Linked DNA regions of Homo sapiens. The protein of the gene in region 2 interacts with the protein of the main gene of each other region in a biochemical or structural test. Each region holds a gene or a part of one and is shown on either strand. Other genes may lie near its edges. The genes, in order: FBXW11 and IFNAR1.

What was found.
Region 1: the proteins of IFNAR1 (region 2) and FBXW11 form a complex in vitro, tested with the Homo sapiens proteins (one study listed by BioGRID and IntAct).

Annotation. Positions count from the first base shown.
Region 1 is NC_000005.10:171,996,452-172,000,267, forward strand, and holds part of FBXW11 (F-box/WD repeat-containing protein 11), read right to left. Parts: intron 601-3,816; exon of another isoform or gene 439-600; intron 1-438.
Region 2 is NC_000021.9:33,323,572-33,327,993, reverse strand, and holds the start of IFNAR1 (interferon alpha/beta receptor 1 isoform 2 precursor), read right to left. Parts: upstream 3,025-4,422; 5' UTR 2,939-3,024; coding exon 2,863-2,938; intron 1-2,862. UniProt on the Homo sapiens protein: Together with IFNAR2, forms the heterodimeric receptor for type I interferons (including interferons alpha, beta, epsilon, omega and kappa).

The DNA.
Region 1 (3,816 bases), on a different chromosome or scaffold from region 2:
AGCCCAGGAGTTCAAGACCAGTCTGGGCAACATGGTGAGACCCTGTCTCTACAAAAAAGAAATTAGCTGAGCATAGTGACATGTGCCTGTGGTCCCAGCTACCTGAGAGGCTAAGGCAGGAAGATCGTGTGAGGCCAAGAGGTCAAGGCTGCAGTAAGCCATGTTTGTGCCACTGCAGTCCAGCCTGGGCGACCTGATGTCTCAAAGATAATAATAACTGCACTTCTTACAGTAAAACAAAGTTTTTACCAGGAATTCAGACACATAGACCTTCACTGATCCACACTCAAACATGGCCAAACATGACACTACGCACAAACGTCTAATATTTCTCCCTTTCCCTATTAATGGACAAAATAAATAAGGGAAAATATTTTTCAAAATTTCTTTCAGCGAGTTGAGTTCCACAAAACAAAACAATACAGGGTAATTGCTTACCTGGAAAATATTTTGTACTTCAGATCCACCAATCCAGAATGAATGGGGGTTTTCCCTTTCAGACTAGTCTGAGAAAAGACAGCAGTCAAGCATCTTCCAAGATTCTTTCCGTTTACTGTATCCAGCTTTCTTCAACAAAATCCCAAACATGCACTTCGGTAACTGTTGAAAGACAGAAAGCAATCCATACACCCACCATGGCACCAGCGGCAAAGGACAGCCTCCAAGAAATGGAAGGAAGGGTCAATGGAATGGTGGATCTGAGGCACAGGAAAAAAGTTATAACCCCTGAGTCAGCTATTTGGCATAAAATGCCTGCAGCAGCATTCCTCACCTCTGTGTTGAAAGGATACAAAACTCGTAACAAATAATGGAACATCCCTAATGTTAATATTTACTCATGATAAACAGCATGCAACTTCCAAATGAGAGCAGCTAAAAAATACCTACCCTATCATCCATATAAATTGTCCTAGACCATTCAGCTACACTGAACTTCCTTATCCATTTTCTAAGACAGCTCCTCCACCATTAGAAAAATAGTTTGTCAGCCAAAAAGAATGATACGAGAGGGCTCAAATATCTACCATAAAGATATTTATTTACGTACCTAACAAAATGTTTTGGTTTGCTACATATAAGACATCATATCTACATATTACCCAAATCCTCTACCCTTAGCTAAAATATAGTGTGCTTCAAAACATATAACTGAAGACTGAACTTCTGACTCAGTAAAGGCCAGTCCCGTACAATGGCCAATGATCACGTAAACTGGGAAAAATCATAAAGAACGCTAATATACAATTTACTAGGTGACACCATTAAATATTAAGTCCTGTCCATATTATATCAATATTCTTTTTCTACCATATCAAATTAGACTGCAAATTCTAAACAAACTAAAAGGGAAAGAGAAAAAGCATTCAGCAGAACAACAAAGATAAAAACAAAAAGACTGAACTTACTCGAACATAAATTTGCTACTTCCACAATTGCTACATTATAGCCAAAATGCTCCTGCAGTAATTATAGTAATACCTACCTTATTGAAAAGCTACTAACTGGCCAAGCCCTTTACATTAATTACCCATATTTAATTCTCAAAAAAAGATGAGCAGAAAGAAGTAACCTATCCAAAGTCCCACATCTACTAGGTAGTAGAGCCCATGCCCTTTTCATGGAGCACTATGGACTCCACAGTTCAAGGGTCAGAAAGCCCATGATTTCTGAGAGAGGAGAAGAAATCAAGCTTTACTCTCAAAGGTCCTAAATTAATTAACATCAAAATGGAGAACAATGAAAATACAGAAGAGTAAATATTTCAGCCTACATGAATCAGTTGGGCCATCCTGAAAGGGTAATTCCCTAGATCTTGCCACTTAAAAAAGCATTTAATTAACAAAGAGCCATGCAATTCTACAGCCCATGATATTTTTTTCTTGTCTTTTTTTTTTTTTTTTTAAGTAGAGACAGGGTTTCACCATGTTGCCCAGGCTGGCCTCGAACTCCTAAGCTCAAGCGATCTGCCTACCTTGGCCTCCCAAAGGGCTGGGATTACAGGTGTGAGCCCCCATGCCCAGCCTAAAGCCCACAATATTAATGCTAAAACAAAACACATTATAGGCTGGGCTCGATGGCTCACACCTGTAGTCCCAACATTTTGGGAGGCCGAGGCGGGCAGATCACTTGAGGTCAGGAGTGTGAGGCCAGCCTGACCAACATGGTGAAACCCCATCTCTACTAAAAGTACAAAAATTAACCGGGCCTGGTGGCACATGCCTACAATCCCAGCTACTCGGGAGGCTGAGGAAGGAGAATCACTTGAACCCGGGAGACAGAGGCTGCAGTGAGCTGAGATCGTGCCACTGTACTCCAGCCTGGTTAACAGAGCAAGACTCCGTCTCAAAAAAAAAAAAAAAAAAAAGACTGTGGCAAGACATACTATAATGGTACTCAAGTAGTCTTTGTGTTTAGCAGCAAAGATTGTAACTGTGACAAAGAATCTCAAATCCAGCTGAACCCAAGTAATTTTTAAATTCTAAGATTTGTTGACAGTCCACAGGCAATGACTCTTAAAGATGTTCTGATTGTTCATATTGTAGGTAAGGCAATTAAAGTGACTGAAATACCGGTCTATGATTAACCTCGCCATAACAATCAGATGAAAATACCTTAAGACTCACAACTTTAAGGAGATCACAAAAGTAAAATCCCAAGCAAATAATGAGTTCTCAAGTTTTTCCCATTAAGTGGTATTACTCCTAAGCCTAAGAATAAACTGGAAACCCAATTTTGACAGAAGTAGCTAGGGAACTATGGCTAGTAGCGAACTGCTAAAACAGTATACTATGCTTTTCAAGGTACGACTATCCAAAATGCAAAACAAGTTATAGCAAAACACAACCACAGCAATTTGACTAACAGACTCATTTCTGGACCTCTTGAATCCTCAGGCTTTTCCCCTGTACTAGTGAGTTAATTTTTCTCCCTTCCCTTCAAAAAAAAAAAATATATATATATATACACACACATATATATTTCTTCAATCCCTAATTGTATATATATATTTCTTCAATCCCTAATTGCTGGCAGGCCTTATGCTAGTAATACAAAGATTAACAGATGCCAGGTGAGTAGTGTCAGGACTGAGTTCTTCCTGCCCCTCTGCCCCCTTTCTCTTTGAATCTATCATGTAGTCATTTCAGAGGGCCAAAATATATTTTATTGTTAGTTACCAAAACTGGTTCAATGTTCTCCAGTTAACTCCTAAAAAAATAAACATTAAAAATTACTCAAGTTCCTTTTTCACAATAGTAGAACCTCAGTCTTTCTTTTTCTTCTGTGGATCAGAGGCTTTTTACTATACAATGGTTTCCTACATTCAATATGCTTATATTTACACACCTCTCTATCACAAGCCAAAGAGCCAAAGCTTTTTTTTTTATTTTTCCTATTAATGTCCCAGTGTTTATACTTCACAGCTTTCCATTTTGTGAAGCTCTTCATTGTTAACTCAACCTGAGAGGGAATTTCCTAAAAACGCTTCCCGCTGACATCACAGAACTCTTCCATCTTTTAGTTTCATTAAAACACTAAGAACCAGGTAAGAGATACCCTACTGGATTGTCAGGTCTTCCTGGTCTGTCTCTCATTTGCCTACAAAGACAAACTTCCTCTTAAGCAATTGCGATCAGCAGAAACTAACCAAGGGTAACGAGCACATTCTTAACCAACACGTTTCTTCCCCCATTGTCATCTAATTCAATGAACAATACAACTCAGAAGAAAATCTTGTATGAATTCTCACTGCTTATTCTGTTAAGGTTAAAACCATCAGCTTTGATGATGGTAAGAATAAGAATTCAAAAACCACAA
Region 2 (4,422 bases):
TGCATGATAAAATTTTGGTCTCCACAACCCCTTAGGACATCCCAGACATTCCTTTCCATTGATTTCAACCAATTACCAATCAGAAAATCTTTAAATCTACCTATGACCTGGAAGCCTTGCTTTGAGTTGTCCTGCCTTTCCAGATCGAACCAATCAAATGTACATCTTAGATGTACTGATTGATATGTCTCCCTAAAATGTATAAAAGCAAGCTGGACCTTGACCACCTTGGGCACATGTGGCCAGGACCTCTTGAGGCTGTGTCATGAATGCATCCTTAACCTTGGCAAAATAAACTTTCTAAGTTGATTTCAGACCGGTCTCAGATATTTTTGGGCTCACAGTTAACTGAAAGATACTGATAATTAGGCCCTTAACATACAAGTGGACAATCAGGAATTTAAATTGTTTGGCCTTTGGGAAAACAGTCTAGTCTGGTTAAGCCCCAAGGCTATTAGTCCAGACTCAGGATTTGACTTCCCACTCCTCCACGGACTGGCCTATACAGCCTCAGGCAAGTTACTTGATCTCTCCGTTGCTCAGTTTCCTTGTCTGTTAACTAAGCATAACAGTATCTACACTGCTCTGAAAGCTTAATGAGTTTATACCTTTAAAACACTTAGATTACTGCCTGGCACACAGCTAAGAGCTTAAGAAATGATAAATGCCTATAAATTATATCTTGCCACCTGTCCGCTAACCTAATTTTAAATTAATTTCTTAATGCACACCCTCCTGGAATGTCAATTTTATATGAAAATTCTGGGAAAGCTTTTTTCACATCAAACCAAACATGAGTTTAATGCAAGTTTTTCATAAACAAAAGACTTCAAAGAAATTACTATGGGATGCACCAGGACCCTAGTACCCACATCCTAGGAAAAGTATACTACATATTTGTGGAAAAGTTTGAGAAATAGGATATCATGTACCACACAGGTATATGGTTTCCTAAGCCAACAGGTAAAGTATTTTGAACTCACTTGCAGGCTCACAGACCACCTGGACTCCTGCACTGGGATGCTAGCCCTGATTCTCTTTGGGTACCCCTCCTCACTACAAAATTACCTCTCACTCTCTATCAACCTTGTAATAGTTGCCATTCCCCCATGCATCCCAAGTAAGTATGAAGAATTTCAGCAAATTAGCCTGGTGACGCCCTGCCTTTGTATTTTTCTTTTATTATTTTTGTAAAAGAAAAAAAAAAATCTCAGGACCTCTCCCAACTTTCTTACGCAAAAGGGAAGTTAGTTAAGCCCAGAGGCCAAGTGACTGCAACACCCTCTTCCAAACGAATGGCTGTTACTAGCATTATGCTTCAGCCAAATCCCCAAGGAAGGATAAAAAGACTCAGCCATCTGCGAAGGGCTACCCTGACAGATCATTCATAAGTCAATTCTTTGCTGGTCTCCCATAAACAAGGGGATGCCAACTGTAACTTCAGGTCTACAACCTAAGTCTAGTTCCTAAAACTAAAGTCTAAAACATAAATAGATCGGGCGTGGTGGCTCACACCTGTAATCCCAGCACTTTGGGAGGCTGAAGTGGATTGTTTGAGGTCAGGAGTTCGAGACCAGCCTGGCCAACATGGCAAAACCCCATCTCTACTAGAAATACAAAAAATAGCCGGATGTGGTGGCGTGCACCTGTAATTCCAGCTACTCAAGAGGCTGAGGCAGGAGAATCGCCTGAACCTGGGAGGCAGAGGTTGCAGTGAGCTGAGATCACGCCTCTGCACACCAGCCTGGGCAACAGGCTGTCTCAAAAAAAAAAAAAAAAAAGTATAAATAAAAATGTCTTCCCATATTTTGGACAGTTTTCTTAGTCTTGGGTCCTAGAATTGCATTTACTAGTTTAAAAAGTATGACTATTTTTATGACTTCTGAAAGACTGAGCAACATTACAATCTCATTGAGATAACATTTCATTGAGTTTTGAACATGATTATTTCTTTGGGAAAAAAGTAGGTAGTTAAGTAAACCAAAAATAAAATTCTAAGCCCCCCAACAATGTGAATGGACCTCTCCTCTCAACAAATGGCATTCCAAAGTTAATCTGAAAAACTAGTTCAGGCCTTCCACACTGACCATGTCAATTACAAGCTTATCTTCTCAGGTGCAAAACAAAGTCAAGACTCCATCTACCCAGAGGCATCTGCATAACTGACTCCCTTTACTCTCTTTTTCTCTTCAAGACACTCATGGTATCTTAAAATACAGATTTCTTGGGCACTAACTAAATTCTCACAGAACTATTTGCCTTACTGCCTTCCTGCCCCACCTCCTGAAAACCTCTGGAAAACCAGTCACAGACGTGTTTGTGGCTCACGTTTTTCCCGGATGCGCCCTGAAGCAGGCTTAGTAAACCTCGAGAACTGACAATTATGCTTCAGTCACTCCGACTGTCATTTTTTATTGGCCTGTATGAATCCTGAGGGCAGAGAAATCCTGGCCACACTTAGCTCACTCCCCCGTGGGACTGGGCGCCTATTCACCAGATTGAGGAAATGCATTTCGGGAAATGTTTTGTTTATTATCAAACAGACCAGCGGAGCCGCGGTACTTTCCCGGAAAGAATCAAACTCGACACAAAGCTCTGGCACCGCCATTTCACGGGGGTGGGACCCGGGCGCTCCCGAGGACCCGTACACGGCCACAGGCAAGCGGCAAGAGAGGACCCAGAACACCACTTTCTCCTGGTTGATTTGCGAGCCCAGGTCGGGTTTAATCTTTGGCGCGGCAAAGTGGACCGAAGGTTTCCCAGACTGGGCGTCTGTCGCCCCCAACAGCATCGCCGCCCCCGTAGCCCAGCTGCGTGCCCTACCTCCCGCCCTGCGCCAAGACTCTCCTCCCCGCCTCTCACCTGCGGCTGCGGACAACACCCATGGCGCCACGGCGACGAGCACTAGGGTCGTCGCGCCCAGGAGGACGACCATCATCTGGGAGCCGCCGCAGATCCCACCAGTTACATGTTCGCGCACGCGCAGCTCCTCTCAGCCGCCATCGCCCCGTCCTAAGTCACACCGCCCCTCTGCACACGCGCTGCCCCTCTTAGCTCTCACCGCCCCTCTACGCACGCGCCGCCTCTTCTGACACACACACCGCCCCTCCGCGCACGCGCCGTTCCTCCACGCACGCGCCTTTCCTCCTAGCTAGCACCCCTTCTCCAAGCTCCCATTGCCCCATCCTAATTGCAGCACCCCTGTGCGCGCGCGCCTTAGAAATCGCAGGCCTCCTGCATTCTCTTCTTCCTCACTCTTTCCGGCCTATGGCCGGTCTGGAGCACTTCACCATCGCATTCCAGGACGACTCCCCCTCACAGGAGGCCTTGACCTTCACAGGATCGCGGCACACACCTGCGCAGACCCAGCGACTTTGGAGTTCCCGCGTCTCTTCCCCATGTCTGCAGTCGGAGGGCGCGGGTGGGCTCCTGGTCGCGGCCCGGCGCTCTTCGTCCTCGCCCTTCTCCGCCCGGGGCGCTTGCTGACCCTAGAGTCTTGGACAGTGGCGTTGGGAGTCCCCAGCGGCCTGGGAACCAGATGAGGCTGGAAGGAGGAAGTGGCTGAGCGACCAGACCGTTGCTGTGTGCAGAGCGAGAGCGGGGCAGAGGCGGTCGAGCGCTCGTTTTCCGGGCGACTTGGCTGAGGGGCGAGATGGTCCCTTGGAGAGAACAGCCACGGGCCCTGGGCCGAGGGGCTCCAAACAGCAGTCGCTAGGCTGTTTTGGTCGTCGGGCTTTATCAGTAAACAATTCGAGCCCATGGTTCGAATGATTATTTAATTAAATTCCTCAGTAATAGATCCAGTGCATTGTGAAAATATGCGAAATAAAATTTAAATGATGAGATAAAATAAGGAATCAAATACTTCGTTGTTATAACAACCAAGCAATTAATTAGCAATTACATAATTAAATGAATGTTTGTAAAGAACAATGCAATGGAATATATATGTATTCCATCTATATATTCCATCTCTATATTCCATCTATATATTCCATCTCTATATCCCATCACTATATTCCATCTCTATATCCCATCTCTATATTCCATCTCTATATCCCATCTCTATATTCCATCTCTATATCCCATCTCTATATCCCATCTCTATATTCCATCTCTATATTCCATATCTATTCCATCTCTATATTCCATATCTATTCCATCTCTATATTCCATATCTATTCCATCTCTATATCCCATCTCTATATTCCATCACTATATCCCATCTCTATATCCCATCTCTATATCCCATCTCTATATCCCATCTCTATATCCCATCTCTATATCCCATCTCTATATTCCATCTCTATATTCCATCTCTATTCCATCTCTATATTCCATATCTATTCCATCTCTATATTCCATATCTATTCCATCTCTATATTCCATCTCTATATTCCATCTCTATATGCCATCTCTATA